Homo sapiens: one gene and its partners. The protein of the gene in region 1 interacts with the protein of each later gene in a pairwise test. Each region holds a gene or a part of one and is shown in the gene's direction. Other genes may lie near its edges. The genes, in order: PALS1, UBQLN1, ATXN3, NUMB, TRIM59 and GPRASP3.

Evidence for each region.
Region 2: the proteins of PALS1 (region 1) and UBQLN1 interact in binary tests that used the Homo sapiens proteins (3 or more experiments, as listed by UniProt).
Region 3: the proteins of PALS1 (region 1) and ATXN3 interact in binary tests that used the Homo sapiens proteins (3 or more experiments, as listed by UniProt).
Region 4: the proteins of PALS1 (region 1) and NUMB interact in a two-hybrid assay, tested with the Homo sapiens proteins (one large-scale study listed by BioGRID).
Region 5: the proteins of PALS1 (region 1) and TRIM59 interact in a two-hybrid assay, tested with the Homo sapiens proteins (one large-scale study listed by BioGRID).
Region 6: the proteins of PALS1 (region 1) and GPRASP3 interact in binary tests that used the Homo sapiens proteins (3 or more experiments, as listed by UniProt).

Annotation. Positions count from the first base shown.
Region 1 is NC_000014.9:67,331,918-67,335,574, forward strand, and holds part of PALS1 (protein PALS1), read left to right. Parts: intron 1-862; coding exon 863-1,039; 3' UTR 1,040-3,657. UniProt on the Homo sapiens protein: Plays a role in tight junction biogenesis and in the establishment of cell polarity in epithelial cells.
Region 2 is NC_000009.12:83,666,443-83,670,099, reverse strand, and holds part of UBQLN1 (ubiquilin-1), read left to right. Parts: intron 1-772; coding exon 773-915; intron 916-1,468; coding exon of another isoform or gene 1,469-1,570; exon of another isoform or gene 1,571-2,592; intron 2,593-3,657. UniProt on the Homo sapiens protein: Plays an important role in the regulation of different protein degradation mechanisms and pathways including ubiquitin-proteasome system (UPS), autophagy and endoplasmic reticulum-associated protein degradation (ERAD) pathway.
Region 3 is NC_000014.9:92,100,083-92,103,582, reverse strand, and holds part of ATXN3 (ataxin-3 reference isoform), read left to right. Parts: intron 1-3,500. UniProt on the Homo sapiens protein: Deubiquitinating enzyme involved in protein homeostasis maintenance, transcription, cytoskeleton regulation, myogenesis and degradation of misfolded chaperone substrates.
Region 4 is NC_000014.9:73,291,022-73,294,678, reverse strand, and holds part of NUMB (protein numb homolog), read left to right. Parts: intron 1-1,804; coding exon 1,805-1,945; intron 1,946-3,657. UniProt on the Homo sapiens protein: Regulates clathrin-mediated receptor endocytosis. Plays a role in the process of neurogenesis.
Region 5 is NC_000003.12:160,437,395-160,439,786, reverse strand, and holds part of TRIM59 (tripartite motif-containing protein 59), read left to right. Parts: intron 1-600; 5' UTR 601-603; coding exon 604-1,815; 3' UTR 1,816-2,392. UniProt on the Homo sapiens protein: E3 ubiquitin ligase involved in different processes such as development and immune response. Serves as a negative regulator for innate immune signaling pathways by suppressing RLR-induced activation of IRF3/7 and NF-kappa-B via interaction with adapter ECSIT.
Region 6 is NC_000023.11:102,748,152-102,751,808, forward strand, and holds part of GPRASP3 (G protein-coupled receptor associated sorting protein 3), read left to right. Parts: intron 1-547; 5' UTR 548-844; coding exon 845-2,488; 3' UTR 2,489-3,657. UniProt on the Homo sapiens protein: Survival and differentiation promoting protein that plays a role in the regulation of neurosynaptogenesis. Induces phosphatase PP2A activity which results in APP dephosphorylation and inhibits BACE1-mediated processing of APP.

The DNA of each region.
Region 1 (3,657 bases):
GTACAACATTCCAGAATGAGAGTCATGCAAGAAACTGCCTCAGGACAAGCCAGAGTTGTCATATTTTTAATATGTTTTCTTACTGTTACAGAAGTTCAAACAGTTGAATGATATAAATTGTTTTGTACTATGGGTCCAATATAGTATTGATGTGTGACTTTTATATCTGAGACATTTTGTCTTGAGTTTAAGTTAGTTGTCTTCATTGGCAGGGGTGATTTGAGGTGAGTTTCACTTTCTTGAACCCATGTGCCTGATAATTAGAGGGTTCAGGATAAGTTTTGCACATAGCCTTGCTGCCTGCTTATCTTTGTAAAATGGCCCTTTCCTTCAGTCAGTATTTTAAAGTAGGCTACTCTATATAGTTTCCCAAACTCTGGTAGGATACTTTTAACTCTCTGCAGCAGATAGTATAGGGCAAGGGCTCTTTACTAGAGCCAAAAGTAAATGGCATTTTAGGTCCTTGCTCCAACCAGAAAGGTTCACTCCATATTACAGATGTTACTATTAGGAAGAGGTTATAGTGTCTAGAATGTTTGAAAACAAATGTTTGTAGGGAAACAGTGTGTGTTCTTGAAGCTTGTAGTTTTGTTGGTGAGATAAGACAAAATATGTGAAAACCTAAATAGTGGTATAAAACAGGATATATTGAGTCCCAGATGGTTCATAATATGAGTCGTGAAGATGCCAAAGCAAAGGTAACCATTGTGGCCGTGACAGGGTTGGAAAGGAGCTCCTGAGGTTGGGAGAGACAGAAGGAAAGCTATGAAGGTCGCTCCTTGTTCTTTGGCCATCTCTGACTCATCCTATATTATTTGGTTAGGAAAGGAATTATCTCACAGTTTTTATCTTCTGTTTGCAGCCTGAAGAGTTGAGAGAAATCATTGAGAAGACAAGAGAGATGGAGCAGAACAATGGCCACTACTTTGATACGGCAATTGTGAATTCCGATCTTGATAAAGCCTATCAGGAATTGCTTAGGTTAATTAACAAACTTGATACTGAACCTCAGTGGGTACCATCCACTTGGCTGAGGTGAAAGAAACATCCATTCTGTGGCATGTTGGACTTGATCTGGCAAAAACTGCCAATAGGAGGACTGCCCGACACTGCAGCAAGATTGAGGATAAGATGGAAGGCAGCAGTATAAGCTGTAGATCTGTTCTTAGATCTCTTGAATTAGTGAGACGACAGTTCCCTTAGGCAGTTTGTGCATGGCATCCTTTATTCTCTATACATGGCTTTAGCGGTTCTTGCCTCATTTTGGGATTCTAAATGGAAGCTTTCAACAGAGCATTCCATTTTGTCCTGTTAAAACCTTTTGTTTTCACCTAAACCCTTTCTGCTTAGTTGTATCTCTGTGAAAAACTTGTATACACAAGCGTCCATGTCTCACACAAATATTGATGTGATTATTCTTAAGTGTTAAATCATTAACACTTAAATGACTTCATTGGGAATATTGAGCAGAGGGACTGTGCTTCTATGCACTGGGCAAGGCAGTATTTGCTTAGGAAACTAATTTAGTCATCAGAGATACTTTCCTAAAAAGGAAAAATAAAAAACAAAATGGTGCCACTTTGGGTTGAAGCTACTTTGTTAGGCTTGAATTCATTTATATGTCTTTTGATTCTTAAAAAAACAAAAAACATTCCATTAGAAGCACCAGTTTTTTTGCTCAGACTTTGTGGATCAGACTCTACACTCAACACACTCTAATCTACTTAAAGGTATACAAAATATGCTGATCTTTTTTAAATTATGATTTCCTGAATTTTTTTCTTAAGTCGTCTCAACTGATTTACTCACTTAGCTTCCCTTCCCTCATCAGCATAGTATAATAGAATGTATGTTACATTTTTATGAATGGCAGGTGTTCATTATAATCTGTATTGACTTAAAAAGTTTCTTCCTCATGATGCTAATAGTTTTTTGTATACATGGGAGGATAGCACATTTGACAGTTTTTGCATTTTTATGTATGAGCACAGTATCCTATGACTGTGCTACGTATATATAGGTAATAAACTGGAATTCTGTTGATGAATATAGCTGCTGTACTGTATATTAATATTTAATAGATCAACAAATGGTCATTGAAAACACTTGTTTAGCATTAGAATAAAATTATATATGTCCTTGGGAAATATTATGACAGTTGACTTTAAGATCAAAAGGAAGGGAAGACCTGAAAGTCATTTGAACATTTTAGGAAAAGAATATTGGAGAGAAAAAGGTATTAAATATATAGAAATAGGTTTTTAACCTAACAAGGTCTGCCTCTTATGACGAGAATGCAACAGCTTGGTAAATCATAAAAGAAACATTTAAGCTAATAGGATTTTCGTACTGTCTCTATAGCTGTAGCTTTAAAATTCAACGTATATAATTGGCATGGAAACTTAATTTGCAGTCTTTTCAAGCCTTTAGGATAGTGTGATGTGTAACAAACAACCTCAAATGTGAATGCCTTGATTTTATTTTTATGGTGACTTTAGCTACAGCATTTCCTATACCCAGAGCTAAACACTGGAATAATACTGACATCATTTAATTTAACATAAGCAATTATGTTTAAGGAGTAATTTGTGTCATGTACATATTTGATTGATTTTTTTTCTTCTACATAATTTTATTTGAACAAATGTAGACAGTTTATATGTCGCCTTTTTCTGTTCAAATTTGCATGGCCTATTAAGTTGGCTGGAGAGTGTTTTATGTGGAAATATTTTCAAGATAATGTTCCTTAGGAAGAAAATAACATTCTTGGGTTGAGGGAAGGAATGCCATACACTACTGTCTCTTCAGATCTGAAATACTCCAGTTTAGAGCCAGGAAATTTCACAGGTCACACCGATTTTTAGCATTAAAAACTAAGGAATATACTTAGCACTTACTTAATCTTTTCAGTTTTCCAGTTTACGTCTCAGGAATGAAGTGTAGTCTATGGTTGACAATGGAGTTTTGTGATCCTGCTTATTGTAACTGACAACTGTTTTCAACTCCAAGAGCTAAACTATTGGCAGTTCATGTTAAGTTAGAGTGAGGGTGTAGGTAGTGTCAGTGAGTGGCTCTTGTGCCTGCTGTAGACATTAGGCCTGCACTAGGGCCATGTGCTGTCAAGATTCAGGAACATGGCTTTAACAAGCAGATCTTGTATCAAGGCAGAGGTGATGCCATGCCATACTTTTAGGAAGTCTGAGATGATAAATATTTCAAGGTCAGTGAAGTCTATCAATCATTCTCCCCTTCCTCATCAGCAATGGTAGATAGAAATGTCCTAAACTTTTCTAAATCCTAGTGATGAGGATGTGCTGATATTCAACATAGTCCTTAAAGTGAAAACTGAGTTGTTGCTGACCTCCACAAAAGAATATGGAAAAAAGCCTTGCTGTACACCTAGTTGTACAGCCACTCTGGCCAATTCCATTTCCTGTCCCTCTGTGGTTCTGACTGGAGACCCCAGTGTGGGGGAGGTCTTACCATTTAATATAGAAATGATATCAATAACTAATGCTATGTACTTGGAAAATCCAAATAAGGAAGTTTTAGGTTGGTGCATAACTTTGTTTCTCAAATTTTCGTTGTCAGAACAAATGGAAGGAGAATATTATTTAGACTAATCCAGATTTGCTTTCTATGAAAATCTAATGTCTG
Region 2 (3,657 bases), on another chromosome or scaffold:
CATCACATATGGAATTCACATAAATTCAGCTGTAGCCCTTGGCAATAAAAGGAAAAACAATAATCATAAGTGCTTTGTACATTAATTTTCTTACAACCACCCTATGAAGTAGATACTGCTTTCTCCATTTTACAGATGGGGAACCTGAAGTATGAAGACGCTAGATAACTTGCCCAAGATCACATGGGTTAGATTAGATTTGAACCCACGTAATCAGGCTCCTGATACTGCTTGGAGTCACTGTGCTCTATGGTTTCAAATGTTAAATGTGCCTACCATTTTACTCAGTGAGTGGCAGTACACAGTGAAAATGGGTGGAGGCATTACATCTTTTGTTGCCTTGGGCATGAAGGCTTACTTCTTTCATAAGGGTGGGCAATATTAAGTGCCGAATATGATTCTAATTAATTCTTTGCAGTCTTGGAGGAAAAGTTGGCTCAGTCCTTTTCACTTTATGGAATTTTTCAGCAGTAATTTTGACCATACGTAATTTTTGCCTTAAGTTGACTTCAGAAGCTAGCTCTTCATTAGACAAGATTTTACTGTAAATGCAGAATGTTTAAACTCATCAGTCCTCTTTTCCTGGTATATGTTGGGCATGTACTTTTAGAGATGTTTTAGTTTTAAAGTTCTTTCGTAGTTCAGTTGATACATAATATGTATAATCATTTGTACTTGGTGAAATTAAACACAGTGCATATTATATTTTAAAGCTTTAACTTTTGTTTAAGTATTTTTCCTTAATATGTCTTTTTTAAAAACAAACTTTCAGCTAGTATGTTCAACACACCAGGAATGCAGAGCTTGTTGCAACAAATAACTGAAAACCCACAACTGATGCAAAACATGTTGTCTGCCCCCTACATGAGAAGCATGATGCAGTCACTAAGCCAGAATCCTGACCTTGCTGCACAGGTGAGTTTGTAATTGTATTGAAAAAGACTGTGCAGTGTGAATTAAAATAACCTAATCTTGTAATTGTGATTTTGGCACATTTGTGTTGTGTATGATATCTTAATACACTAGAAAAATAAGTAAACTGTGTCTCCAATTTTTTAGACCGTGTGTTTCTTTGCAGTAAATTAATACTTCATATGTAATTAAAACAACTTTATCTCTGCCATTCATTGACTAGAAAGAAGTGCAGGTTTAGTTTGTTTCTACATATGTTGAGTTAGGAGACAAGTACAGAGTTCTGGAATGCCCACTCTTTTGAAGATAAACTACTTAATGAAATGTAAATCTTGAAAGCAATTAAGAGCAATGTTAATACATTTGAAATACTTTTATTTAGTAGATCACTCAGATTATAATAGTCATGCTCAGAATGGCAGTTGTAAAATAGCATTTATTAAAGACGGGAATTTGTCAGAACAATGTTCTCCTTCTTTCAACTATTGATTCCCCTGCTGAAAATCGTATACAGGTCCCTTATTAATGTATTCCTTTTTCTAATTTGTTTCTAAAGAGACCACAGCTAAGAAAATTGGGGATCTTAATGCTGGCTGAACACTCAGGATCACTTGGGAAGCTTTATAGACAGTACCGATGGTTGGGGCCTCATCCTTAGAGATTTTGAGATAATTGCGTCCGATAACCCTTTCTCCCTCAAGTTGCCTAGGTACTATCTAGGTTCCATACCACAGGGCTTGAAAAACCACGGAGAATGTGAAATAAACCTTGATAATCTGTAGTTTATATTTGCTGTTCGTTAAAAATGGCTTCTGTAGTGTGTCAGGAATTTGGAAGACTTTATAGTTAATCTCATCCCTTAAATTTTAAAAGCTTTAAGTCAAATGAATGGTTTTTATTTTCTAAATTCTAAAACTATATTGATTCAGGTATCTTTGTGTATAATTCTCAGTAATAACTTATGCCCTCACCAAATTTGTGGAATTGGAAATAACAAATTTTAAGAAGAATTTTTGTGTCTGTGATTCTGTATATTGGAGGTACATTTTATGGAAGATTGATTTATGCATATGAAACTTATCAGACTGAGTTGTTAGTATTAAATGCTTCAATTTACCATAATAAGCCATTTTAAGTGTGTATTTGGCTAATACTGAATGTGCATCTTGCTTTTAAAATTTGACTTTAACAAGCACATGCGTAGCAATTTTGTAATAATCTTACTTTAGTAAAGTGACTTGAGCACTCACATACTATTTTTTTACTCTAAAACAAAATGTTGCTAGTACTAGATTGGCATGTCTTTTATTACAGATAATTTAGAAACTTTTACAATGTTCTTGTTATCTGCAGATTAAAATTTGTGGTTTTTCTATTCTTTTGATTTTTAAATATTTAAAAAGACTCTTGAGTGTAAAAACTTGTGGTATAAGCACTCAGGTAAGTTATAAGAAGTATCTAATAAGATGATTATCTGTGAAAGGATACGTTTAAGATGACATGCTTTTTTAAGATGAAATGAAGTGAATTCCAAAAGATATGTGTGATAACCTCGTTAATATGTTGATGATAAGTATTTGGAACCAATAAAGAAGCAGGTTTGTTGACCTTAAGCCTGTATGAGTTTACTTACTGTGAACTTACTGGTCACTTTGAAATAAATACTGTATGTTCCTGAAAGGTTGTCTGACATCTGCTTTTGTTATTGTATTGAAATTAACTAAAAGATCACTTTGCAAGAATTGGGGCGAATTTTCTCTACCAGCATTTACATTGCTCTTAAATACGGTTAACTTCTTGAGGGCAAGGATCATTTCCTCCCCAGACTTTGGATAGATAAATAGGCTATCAGTAAATCCTTGTTAGTTGACTTTTTACTCCGCCTGGGGAAAATGATATAAAATGTGTCTTTTGAAGCTACAAGAATTTATTAGCTCTGGTTATGCTCCTTGTGTATTTTAATCTTATTTTCAGGTATATGACATCATACTAATAATGATCCTGATTTTTAAATTCTTAACGTTTATTTGAAGTTTAGGAGATGCCACTTTTCTCATCTCTGGTAGTAGTGAGGTGAAATCCAGATGCTAATCTTGGTGTTCTCAAATGGATTTACATCTTTTAGGTCTTAAATCATTTTAATACTTTTCCCAGAGGACTGTTGGTGCTAGGCCTGACTGATTTTCACCTAGCAGCTCCATTTCTCTGGCAAGTTGGTTGCTGTTTTGCGGTGTTATTTTTTTGGACCTAATATTAGCTGTTTTGTAGTAGGCAGGTAGATGTAGTGGTCCTTTTCAGATCTAGATTTTCTCTGTGCCTGCCACTTGTGTGTTGAGGTTTCTAAGCAAGCCATGTTACATAGTTCATGTATTGATGTTTATGTTTATTCTGCCAGTGTAGTAGAAAATATATCTTCATGAATGCCAGTTACTCCCATTTTTCTTTCAATGGCATATATTCACGTTTGTTCAAGGAAAAGCCTAAGAAAATGATTGCTTTTATTTTTTAGGATATTGCATGTCATTATCATAACCACCATTCTCATTGAGAGAGAATATGCCTCATTTTTTTGTTTTTGTTCTTCTGGAGATCCCTCTTGTGGACAGTATCTTCCCTTTTCCTTTTTTTATTTATGTTCTACCTTCCTCCCTTTTAAGTGCCAGCTGAGGCACTTGGGGGAAGATAGAATAAAACAAGGTACATTACTTGTTTCAGATATTTCCAGTTAAAATTGTTTGAACACTT
Region 3 (3,500 bases), about 25 Mb from region 1:
GTTAGCACATGCCTGTAGACTTGGGAGGCTGAGGTGGGAGGATTGCATGAGTCTGGGAGGTCGAGGCTGTAGTGAGCCATGATCGCACCACTGCACTCCAGCCTAGGGGACAGAGCAAGATCCTGTCTCAAAAGAAAAAAATGTATATATTTGAATGGATAAAGAGATGGCTTTGAGTTTCTGAGATATATATGGTGCTGTTTATCTAAAGTAAACAAGTTTTCTGTAAATATTTTAAGGCTTTGCAGGCCAGCTGTAGTCTCTGTCACACATTCTTATTTGTGCATGTTTTTCCCAACCATGTAAAAATGTAAAGTGCATTCTTAGCTACTGGGGCAGGTTGAATTTGGCCCATGGGCTAGAGTTTGCCAACCCCTAACTTAAACCTTTGTACTAACTTTATGACCACTACTGGATTTTTGTTGTTGTTTGTTTTAGTTCTGGTGCCTGCTTTGTTTTTTTTTTTTTTTTTAATCCTCTTGCTGATGTTTCTTGGTGCAGTTACTGTGCCATTTGTATTGGTGCTTTTAATGTAATGCAAACTGGTAATAATATCTAAACTTGCTGGGGTTGTACATAAAATTATTGAAAAGATTGAAAAGATGCTGAGCATTGACTCTGTGGCATTCATTATGCCCTTTTGTGATTGCTGGATTTTAGCCATCTTTAGGACATTTGAGCTTTAGGAGAAGCCAAATTCTGTATAAATGACTTGAAGTGCTAATAGCACAGGTTTTGAAACCTCTGCCTGGGTTTGAGTCTCAGCTCTGCCTTTTACTACCTGTGTGATCCTGAGCAAGTTACTTAGTATCCCTGTCCTCTAGTTTCCTCCTCTGTAGTGTGGGGATAATAACATAGACATAACCTGAGAGTTAGAGTGTAGAGAAGGCTCCCTGGCAGATAGTGCTGTAGAAGTACTGGCCATTGCCATTACTCAGGTGCTTGTGTTTGCTGAACCTCATAGTAAGGGCTCGGAGAGCACTAAGAGGAGGTGAGAAATGCTGCTAGATTGACAGCTTGTCCCCAGATAGCCCATTCCCGAGAGCACCTTAGGTTTATACCTGATTTGTGTTGTAGTTAGTAGTGTCTCTGGTAATTTGAACTAGTTTCAGGTTGGTCTTGAAAACCTGGGGAGGTTGGGGGTAAATGATTTGGTAGCAGTTCTCTTTTGTGATTTTATACATTATCTTTGTAGAACTGCAGTTTGCTAATTCTCTGAGCCCAACACAATGAAGTCTGGGCCTAAAATCATAGAATTTCTTTTATTTTTTTTTTTGTTTTTAATTTATTTATTCCCTCCCTCCCTCCTTTCTTCCTTTCTTCCTTTTCTTTCTTTCTTTCCTTCCTTCCTTCCTTCTTTCTTTTCTTTCTTTCTTTTCTTTCTTTGGAGTCTCACTCTGTCACCAGGCTGGAGTGCAGTGGCACGAACTTTCTTCAGAGTCTCACTTTGTCACCAGGCTGGAGTGCAGTGGCGCGAACTCAGCTCACTGCAACCTCCGTCTCCTGAGTTCAAGAGATTCTCCTGCCTCAGCCTCCCGAGTAGCTGGGACTATAGGCATGTGCCACCATGCCCAGCTAATTTTCTTATTTTTAGTAGAGACGAGGTTTCACCATGTTGGCCAGGATGGTCTTGATCTCTTGACCTCGTGATCCACCTGCCTCAGCCTCCCAAAGTGCGGGGATTACAGGCGTGAGCTACCACGCCCAGCCTATTTTTTATTTTTTGAGGCAGAGTCTCACTCTGTCACCCAGGCTGGAGTGCAGTGGTGCAATCTCAGCTCACTGCAACCTCCGCCTCCTGGGTTCAGGTGATTCTCCTGCCTTAGCCTCCTGAGCACCTGGGACTACAGGCGCCTGCCACCACACCTGGCTAATTCTTATATTTTTAGTAGAGGCGGGGTTTCACCATGTTGGCCAGGCTGGTCTCGAACTCCTGATCTCAAGTGATCAACCTGCCTTGGCCTCCCAAAGTGCTGGAATTACAGCCATGAGCCACCATGCCCAGCCAAATCATGAGATTTCAATACCGCTGAACTTTGATTATGGCAAAGTGAACTTCTGCTTTGATTAAAGCTTGATGAGAGAGGTGGCTGGGGATAGTTTGAGATAAGGGCAAGGCAGGAAAATGCATAATCTTACGTGGGCTCATTGTCATTGTACAATTCTTTTGGTCCATGTGGAATTTGATCCGTCCTATGACTTAAGTTATGTTTATTTTTGTTTTTATTTTTATTTATTTTGTGTCTTTTTGAGAGACATGATGTTGCTCTGTCACCTGGGCCAGAATACAGTGGCACAATCTTAGCTCCGTGTAGCCTTGAACTCCTGGGCTCAAGTGATCCTCCCACCTCAGCCCCTCAAACAGTTGAGATTATAGTATGAACCACTGTGCCTAGCCTTAAGTGATTTTTAAATTTGTACTGAACAGTTTGTCCTTTCCTTCCATTAAATCATATTAGAAGTACAGAACTTGATATTTCCTGTAGCAATACAGTTTTTCTTTGATGAAGTTTGATTTCAAGTACTTATTTTTCATAATTTAAAGCTATTTTTTATAGAGAGAATTTTAATCAAATATTTGGATGTCACTATTGCTATATATGGTATTAAGTATGGTGACCATAGTTTGTAAACTCCAAACTGACAGCAAGACAGGAAATTTGTGTTAGCAAAGGCTTTTTTCTTACTGTTTGAATTTTTTAAAAATTAGATACAATACAGAGAGGAGCACACAAATCATTAAGAGTACAGCTCAGCGAATTTTCACACAGTGAACATGTGTAAACAGCAAGTAACAAAAGATTTACCTGCATCCTATAACCTCCCATTATTCCCTTTTCTAGGTACTGTCTCTCCACTGCATTCCCACCAAATATAACCACTATGCTGAATTCTGACATCATAAATGAGTTTTGCCTGATTTTGAGCTTTTGTGACTGGAAGTGTACAGTGTATATACCCTTTCGATTCTGTCCTCTTTAGTTTACCATTGTTTGAGAAATTTATCCATACTGTTCCAGAATTAACTACTGTTAATTATTGTTAATTAACTACTGTTGTAGTTAATTCATCCTCATTGTTATCTAGTATTCTTTTGTGAGTAAACACAATTTCCATTCTACTGTGATCCCAGCTATCCATTTGGGTCGTTTCCAGTTTGGGGTCCATTACAAATAGTAATGCTATCTGTAATGCTATTTTGTATTACTACAAATAGTAATGCTATTTGTGGCACAAAAATACTGCTTTTGTGAACATTCTTATACATGTCTTTTGATGAATGTATGTTTGCATTGCTGTTGTTTACATTATGTACCTAGTAATGGAATTGCTAGATCATAGGAGATGTATATATTAAGCTTTAGTGGATGCATTACATAATTATTAGTTATTATTGGTTATACCAATTTATCCTCTCATCAGTAGTATACAACAGTTTCTGTATCTCTAATCTCCAACATTTTAGCCATTTTAGAGTTTGTGTACTAACACATTGTGGT
Region 4 (3,657 bases), 6.0 Mb from region 1:
GGGCATGGTGGTGCGTGCCTATGGTTCCAGCTACTTGGGAGGCTGAGGCATGAGAGTCACTTGAACCTAGGAGGCAGAGGTTGCAGTAAGCTGAGATTGCATCATTGCACTCCAGCAGCCTGGGCGACAGAGCAAGACTATCTCAAAAAAAGAAAGTAAAAAGAGAATCCTGGAAATGAGTAAGCCAAAAAGGAGTAGTCCCAAATTCTGTTCATAAATTCTGCCCAAATCTCTGACCCTTTTAGCCATGTAGATTCAAGGCAGACTCCAAATAGCCCAACTAAGGATATAAAAACTGATATTTGATTACCTACGTATGGTGACATGCACCTGTAGTCCTAGCTCCTCGGGAGGCTGAGGCGGGAGGATGCTTGAGCCCTGGAGTTGAGGTTACAGTGAGCAGTGATTGCGCCACTGCACTCCAGCCTGGATGACGGAGCAAGACAGTCTCAAAAAAAGAACAAAAACGCCCTGATGTCTGAGGTGCTGTTCAAAAGATAAGAGTTTTCCATTTGAGTATAATCAAATTAGCTACCTGATAAAACCAAAAATATGACACTTCCAAGGAATGTAACGGAATCCATTCTTTCCACATACAACATTCACAATGACTACAATGCAGTTACTCAGCATACAACAAAACAGACAAGTCTGACTTATTCTCATCAAAATAACAATCAATAAAGACCTAACTTCAAGATGACTCAGATGTTGGAATTAGCAGACAGATTTTAAATGCCCGCCTTCACTATTTGACCAAGAAATAAATGTCTCTTGTATTTGAGTCATTGTATTGTTTTGTGTTTATAGCATCACCACAACTAGTACAGAAAATGGTACACTGAAGTAGACTGCTACCTTAACAGAAATGAAAACAGTGTATAGAAGGCATTATAACTATACTCAGTGACAGAAAGGAAATATGTTCATGTTGAATGAAGAGATAGAAATCTTGGCAGAGAATAGAAACTATGAAAAAGAAACAAATGGCTGGGCACGGTGGCTCGTGCCTGTAATCCCAGCACTTTGGGAGGCCAAGGCAGGTGGATCATGAGGTCAGGAGATTGAGACCGTCCTGGCTAACACAGTGAAACCTGTCTCTACTAAAAATACAAAAAAATTAGCCGGGCGTGGTGGCACACGCCTGTAGTCCCAGCTGCTTGGGAGGCTGAGGCAGGAGAATTGCTTGAACCCGGGAGGCAGAGGTTGCAGTGAGCCAAGATCGCGCCACTGCACTCCAGCCTGGGTGACAGAGTGAGACTGTCCAAAAAAAAAAAAAAAAAAAGAAAAAGAAACGAGTGGAAATTCCACACCTGAAAAATACAGTATCTGAAGTAACTTCACTGGATCGGGTATATATAATGTAAAAAAGCAAGGTGCAGAACTGTGTGTATGTGTGTGTAGTGTTCATTGTGTAACGAAGTTAGCATAAACATGACTATTATATGTATTTGCTTATATTTGGGAATAAACCCAAAGGATTTTTTTTTTATCCAAAGGATTAAAGATACTGATTTACATATATTGTTGAATGTGGAATCTACCATGAAAGAGATGTAAAACTAGAATCAACAAGCATATGCTTTAGAACATGTAGTTGAGAGAGGTATCTGGGCAAAGTGCCTCTTGGGATGTCTGCTGAGTCCAATTCTCAGTATTTAAACTGCTGGACACAGATCTAGGTATTCCATAGCCTAGTTGTATCAGATGTATGGATTGTGCATCATGAAATGAACATCCTGTGTTCTGAGAAGCTCAGATAACCTCATAAGTCTTCTCTTTCTTTGTGTGTCGTATTTTCTAGGACCTCATAGTTGACCAGACGATAGAGAAAGTTTCTTTCTGTGCCCCAGACAGGAACTTTGATAGAGCCTTTTCTTACATATGCCGTGATGGCACCACTCGTCGCTGGATCTGTCACTGCTTCATGGCTGTCAAGGACACAGTGAGTCCAGCAAATATGTATTTCATGATGAGTATTCTCAGTTAGCTGGGCTCTTTCTGGGTTTGCTCAGCCAAGCGGTTTCTACTACATTTTTAACAAGTACTTGGAAGTGCCTAAACTAGCCTACTTTCAGCTCCTTTTATTCAAATAGTTCACACTCTTGATGTAACCCCAGGAGTTGCAACTCACTGAACAAAATGATTGGCTGAAACCAAAGATCATTAAAGGAAGGTAAAAATGGTCTGGTGATAGTGGTTGCTAAACTTTATTTGAAACTTTTAATTATTGGAAGTATTTTCAGGGTTCTTAAATGTATTTGTTGGCTAACATATATGAGTATGGTATTAAAAATGTATTTGCATAGAGACTACTACAAATGAAAGAAGTTGGCTGGGCCTGATGGCTCACCCCTATAATCCCAGCACTTTGGCCAGGGCAGGAAGATCACTTGAGACCACAAGTTGGAAACTAACCTGGGTTACATGGCAAGACCTCATCTTTACAAAGTTAAAGAAAAAATTAGCCAGGCATGGTGGCACATGCATGTAGTCCTAGCTACATTCTACATGCCTTGGGAGGCTGAGGCGAGCAGAACACTTGAGCGTAGGTGTTGGAGGCTACAGTGAGTCATCGTGCCATTACACTCCAGCCTGGGTGACAGAGTGAGACCTTGTCTCCAAAAACAGAACAAAACAAAAAAACAAAACTGAGTTGGAGTATACTTTCAACTATTATAAAAACAGAAATACCGGCCAGGCACGGTGGTTCACACCTGTAATCCCAGCACTTTAGGAGGCCGAGGCAGGCGGATCACGAGGTCAGGAGTTCAAGACCAGCCTGGCCAATATGGTGAAACCCCGTCTCTACTAAAAATACAAAAAAATTAGCTGGGCGTGGTGGTGCATGCCTGTAGTCCCAGCTACTCGGGAGGCTGAGGCAGAAGAATCGCTTGAACCCAGGAGGTAGAGGTTGCAGTGAGCTGAGATTTGTGCCACTGACTCCATCCTGGGTGACAGAGCAAGACTCTGGCCAAAAAAAAAAGAAAAAAGAAATACTGGCCGGGCATGGTGGCTCACACCTGTAATCCCAGCACTTTGGGAGGCCGAGGTAGGCAGATCACCTGAGGTCAAGAGTTCAAGACCAGTCTGGCCAACATGGTGAAACCCTGTCTCTACTAAAAATGCAAAAGTTAGCCAGGTGTGGTGGCGCATGCCTGTGATCCCAGCTACTTGGGAGACTGACTCAGGAGAATCGCTTGAACTCGGAGGCAGAGGTTGCAGTGAGCCAAGATTGCACCACTGCACTCCAGCCTGGACGACAGTAAGACTCCGTCTCAAAAATAAAACAAAAATAGGCCAGGCACGGTGGCTCACGCCTGTAATCCTAGCACTTTGGGAGGTTGAGGTGGGCAGATCACTTGAGGTCAGGAGTTGGAGACCAGCCTGGCCAACATGATGAAACCCTGTCTCTACTAAAAATACAAAAATTAGCCGGCTGTGGTGGCGGGTGCTTGTAATCCCAGTTATTCAGGAGGCTGAGGCACGAGAATCGCTTGAACCCAGGAGGCAGAGGTTGCAGTGAGTCAAGATTGCACCACTGCACTGCAGCCTAGGTGACAAAGCAAGACTCCATCTCAAAAAAAAAAAACAAAAAACAAAAACTAAACAGAAATACTAAGTTACGGTAGAATGAACAACGCTAGAAATTGTTGC
Region 5 (2,392 bases), on another chromosome or scaffold:
AGACTGGGTAATTTATAAGGAAAAAGAGGTTTAATGGACTCACAGTTCCACATGGCTGGGGAGACCTCACAATCATGGCAGAAGGTGAAAGGCACGTCTCACATGGCGGCAGACAAGAAAAGAGAATGAGTGAAGCAAAAGGGGTTTCCTCTTACAAAACCATCAGATCTCGTGATACTACAAGAACAGTATGGGGGAACTGCCCCCATGACTAAAGTTATCTACCGCTGAGTCCCTCCCACAACATGTGGGAATTATGGGAGCTACAATTCAAGATGAGATTTGGGTGGAGACACAGCCAAACCATATCACATAGCAACAAATTTAAATAACTTAAATTTGAAGCATTTTACTACAAATTAATGATAATTGCTTTGTTTGGGATGATTTTGGTCCCTAAGGAATAAACTCTTAATTGTGATCAGTTATTCACTATATATACTAGGAAATGAATTACTCAGAAAACTTCATTTTAAAAATACCTTGTTCTCTTTTAAATGACAAGCAGTATGGTAACAATTTGGAGGTTAATGCCTAGAATGTTAAATAATATGTACAGGTGTCTCTATGTAAACTTAAAATACATTTTTCTCTTGACAGGAAATGCACAATTTTGAGGAAGAGTTAACTTGTCCCATATGTTATAGTATTTTTGAAGATCCTCGTGTACTGCCATGCTCTCATACATTTTGTAGAAATTGTTTGGAAAACATTCTTCAGGCATCTGGTAACTTTTATATATGGAGACCTTTACGAATTCCACTCAAGTGCCCTAATTGCAGAAGTATTACTGAAATTGCTCCAACTGGCATTGAATCTTTACCTGTTAATTTTGCACTAAGGGCTATTATTGAAAAGTACCAGCAAGAAGACCATCCAGATATTGTCACCTGCCCTGAACATTACAGGCAACCATTAAATGTTTACTGTCTATTAGATAAAAAATTAGTTTGTGGTCATTGCCTTACCATAGGTCAACATCATGGTCATCCTATAGATGACCTTCAAAGTGCCTATTTGAAAGAAAAGGACACTCCTCAAAAACTGCTTGAACAGTTGACTGACACACACTGGACAGATCTTACCCATCTTATTGAAAAGCTGAAAGAACAAAAATCTCATTCTGAGAAAATGATCCAAGGCGATAAGGAAGCTGTTCTCCAGTATTTTAAGGAGCTTAATGATACATTAGAACAGAAAAAAAAAAGTTTCCTAACGGCTCTCTGTGATGTTGGCAATCTAATTAATCAAGAATATACTCCACAAATTGAAAGAATGAAGGAAATACGAGAGCAGCAGCTTGAATTAATGGCACTGACAATATCTTTACAAGAAGAGTCTCCACTTAAATTTCTTGAAAAAGTTGATGATGTACGCCAGCATGTACAGATCTTGAAACAAAGACCACTTCCTGAGGTTCAACCCGTTGAAATTTATCCTCGAGTAAGCAAAATATTGAAAGAAGAATGGAGCAGAACAGAAATTGGACAAATTAAGAACGTTCTCATTCCCAAAATGAAAATTTCTCCAAAAAGGATGTCATGTTCCTGGCCTGGTAAGGATGAAAAGGAAGTTGAATTTTTAAAAATTTTAAACATTGTTGTAGTTACATTAATTTCAGTAATACTGATGTCGATACTCTTTTTCAACCAACACATCATAACCTTTTTAAGTGAAATCACTTTAATATGGTTTTCTGAAGCCTCTCTATCTGTTTACCAAAGTTTATCTAACAGTCTGCATAAGGTAAAGAATATACTGTGTCACATTTTCTATTTGTTGAAGGAATTTGTGTGGAAAATAGTTTCCCATTGAAAATGTCAACCTGAATTGTTTAAATGGGCTTATTCTGTACATTGCTAAACAAAAAATGGGGTAGCATGGATAAAGAGCAAACTAAGCTTTATTAGTGCTGCAACTAATATAAACAAATGTTTATATTTGTTGCTTCTTTTGGTTAGCAATGATATGTCAAAGTTATATCTGAAATAGTCAAATCTTTGGGAAACAGAATCTAGTAACAATTTGAAAAGTAATACACTATCCCATTTTTATTGGCTTTATGATGGTTGACATAATGTTGCTGTGACATTTAAACATTCTTGTACCAATATTGTCTTTTACCATTATTATATACTGCAGTTAATTGGCTTTACAGTTCTTTATATATATAGCAAAATCCTGAAAGAACATATACCTTTATTTTGATGTGGCTTGAAGCTTTTGAATGGGTGAATAAGGATGATAGAAAGGTTTCAAAATCAAGCAACAAAGTCTTAAAGTGATAAGGCATGGCTTAAAGATCTTTTGATCAAACATACCTGTGTTTGAGATAGATTTAAGAGCCCTAAATGCTTATCACCATTCACTCCAAATAAAACTATTGCTTTTG
Region 6 (3,657 bases), on another chromosome or scaffold:
TATATAACCAAAGCCCTAGATTTGGAAAGGCAGAAATTGGGTTTAGAGATTAGAGTGTAGGTCTGTCAACCAAATACTCAGAACTCCAATCCCATCTGTATTTTTGTCCATAGGCCTGCCCATGAGTTAACTATAGGGCATATCAACACTGCAAACAGGGAAGGAGGAAAAATTGCACTAGATCAGTGCAGGTTGGTGTGAGTGCTGCCTGAATACACCTATGAGGTCTAGTGGTATATATTTTAGTGGTGGACCTACTAGCATGGGTCCAAAGAGACTGGGCACTCCTTTAGCCTTTCTCACTCTCAGCAAGCTTACCTGCCATCTTTGTTCCTGTTTGATGCAGAGTAAAAGAATGACAGTGCTTGGGCAGGACATTGTTGAGCATTAGTGGCAGTGTGCAAGGTATAAAATTAAGTAGCAGAGTTTTTTATTAATCCACTTCTACACAATTCATTTCTACTCTCCTATGTCCTTCTGTGTGGCTGTTTGCATAGAGAAGCACAGTTAGACAAGACTCAAAGCCAGTTTCTTTCTTCAACCTCAGGTCCATCTCCACTGGTGGCTGTGGTGGCTTTGGATTGTTGGAAGACCATCACCTTCAGCAGGTCTGCACTTGGGAACAATCATTCTCCCCCAGCCCGAGCGTGCCTCTGCCCTCTGTATCATTGACAGAGGCTGTATGTTTGGAAAGAGAACTTTGTGACTGCAGAACTGACAGTTGACTCTAATTCTTGCTACCAAGTTTTTCCCCGACCCAGTGAAAGAGTGTTAAGACTTCGACCTAGGACACATTGAGAACCAAGGCCAAGACTGGACAGGGCCATATAACTGGGCTTCAACCATGGCTGGGACTAAGAATAAGACAAGAGCCCAGGCCAAAACTGAAAAAAAGGCTGCTATACAAGCTAAAGCTGGAGCAGAGAGGGAGGCTACTGGTGTTGTTAGGCCTGTAGCCAAGACCAGGGCCAAAGCAAAAGCCAAGACAGGGTCTAAGACAGATGCAGTAGCAGAGATGAAGGCAGTGTCTAAGAACAAGGTTGTTGCTGAGACGAAGGAAGGAGCTCTGTCAGAGCCTAAGACTCTGGGCAAAGCCATGGGAGATTTCACTCCCAAGGCTGGGAATGAGTCCACCAGCTCCACATGTAAAAATGAGGCTGGTACTGATGCCTGGTTCTGGGCTGGGGAAGAGGCCACTATCAATTCCTGGTTCTGGAATGGAGAAGAGGCTGGTAATAGTTTCAGCACTAAGAATGATAAACCTGAAATTGGTGCCCAGGTCTGTGCTGAGGAGTTGGAACCTGCGGCTGGGGCCGATTGCAAACCTAGGTCAGGGGCTGAGGAGGAGGAGGAAGAGAATGTTATTGGGAACTGGTTTTGGGAAGGAGATGATACTAGTTTTGACCCTAATCCTAAACCTGTGAGCAGGATAGTTAAGCCTCAGCCTGTGTATGAAATTAATGAAAAAAATAGGCCCAAGGACTGGTCTGAGGTAACTATCTGGCCCAATGCCCCTGCTGTAACTCCAGCTGTGTTAGGATTTAGATCCCAGGCACCATCTGAGGCAAGCCCTCCTTCATATATTGTTCTGGCCTCCGCTGAAGAAAATGCCTGTTCTTTGCCTGTGGCAACAGCTTGCCGCCCTTCTAGGAACACTCGCTCATGCTCACAGCCTATCCCTGAGTGTCGTTTTGATTCTGACCCCTGCATCCAGACCATAGATGAGATTAGACGTCAAATCAGGATCAGGGAGGTAAATGGGATTAAGCCATTTGCTTGTCCTTGCAAAATGGAATGCTATATGGATTCTGAGGAATTTGAAAAACTTGTTAGCTTACTTAAGTCAACTACTGATCCTCTTATTCATAAAATAGCACGGATTGCAATGGGTGTCCATAATGTTCACCCATTTGCCCAAGAGTTTATTAACGAAGTAGGTGTAGTGACACTTATTGAAAGCTTGCTCAGTTTTCCTTCCCCTGAAATGAGAAAAAAGACTGTAATTACTCTGAATCCTCCTTCTGGGGATGAAAGACAACGCAAAATTGAATTACATGTTAAGCATATGTGTAAAGAAACCATGTCATTTCCTTTGAACTCACCGGGACAGCAATCTGGATTAAAGATACTAGGACAACTGACTACTGATTTTGTCCATCACTACATTGTTGCCAATTACTTTTCAGAGCTTTTCCATTTGCTGTCCTCAGGAAATTGCAAAACCAGAAATCTTGTTTTGAAACTACTTTTAAATATGTCTGAAAATCCAACTGCAGCCAGAGACATGATCAATATGAAGGCATTGGCAGCATTAAAACTCATCTTTAACCAGAAAGAGGCAAAAGCCAATCTTGTTAGTGGTGTGGCCATATTTATTAACATAAAGGAGCATATCAGAAAAGGCTCAATTGTAGTTGTTGATCACTTGAGTTATAATACACTCATGGCCATTTTCAGGGAAGTTAAAGAGATTATTGAAACAATGTAAAATGAGCCAGAGATAGAACATTTTAAGCCATCTTCAAACTCTAGCAGGCTGTACATTACAGTGTACACATTATACACTGCATCTTTAACACAGAGTCACCTGTGACAGGCTCTAGGTTTGAGCTAGACTATTTTGGGGGTATCAAATGAATATTATACCTTGGGCTGAAAATGTTTGATTTTTATCTTGTCTAGATTGGCATATTTTTAACATTTTACTTAAGATAGCAAACCAGTTCGTTTTAAGTAAGCTAACTTGTTCATTAGTATCTGTGGCTTAAAATGGCAAAAAAGAAAATATCCTTGAGTTTGTAATCTAGTTACAGAAGTAAGGCATACACACACACAAAGATAACAGTACCTAGAGAGAGAGTGTGTGTGAGTGTGCGTGTCTCTGTGTGTGCACGTGCACGCTCATGGCCAAATGTGCGCACTCTACATAAAGGAGGCAGGAGTTCCTATAGGCTATTTAATGTAAGAGAAACTATTTTTCTCCTGTTCCAGCTGTATCAGATACTCGTTCCGCAACACAGAAATGACTCAGAATCTCAGACAAAATGTATTATTTGTTCAATTTTAATTTTGCTACTACATTCATAACTCTTAAATTGTTAGGCTGTTTCATTTACATCAAAGTTATCTCACAAAAGAGAAGGCAGGAAACGTTTTGTGAGTGCCTATTCTATGTCAAACACTGTGTTGGCACCATATTTTACAAGTTTTTTTCCTCTTCTCACAGTGATCTTGTGAGTTAGTTACTTATATTTTTATTAGAACTCATTATTCTGGGTACCCTCCAATGAGAATTAGAGAGGTTAAATACCTTTTCCTAGATTCCCACAGCAGGAAGGTGGCATAGCTGTTTTGTCTGACACCAGAACCCATCTCACCACACTGCTTTACAGTCTTCCTGAAGGACATTTTGAGGTGGGGGGGCCTTCAAAGCTCAGAGACTGGTTTGAATGGTTTAATTTTGCAATGGATCATGTCCATGCCAGGTGTTACAATTCTTAACTTCCTCCAAATTCGTGTGTCCATTAGACATTTGGCTACATCTGGCTGGAGGTCAGGAGAAAATTCTGAGGTAAATAGATGGATTTTATCTGGCAGTGTCGAAAATAGTAGGAGCCTAAAACTTTGTTCAATGAGTAAGATGTAGATTTGGAGTCA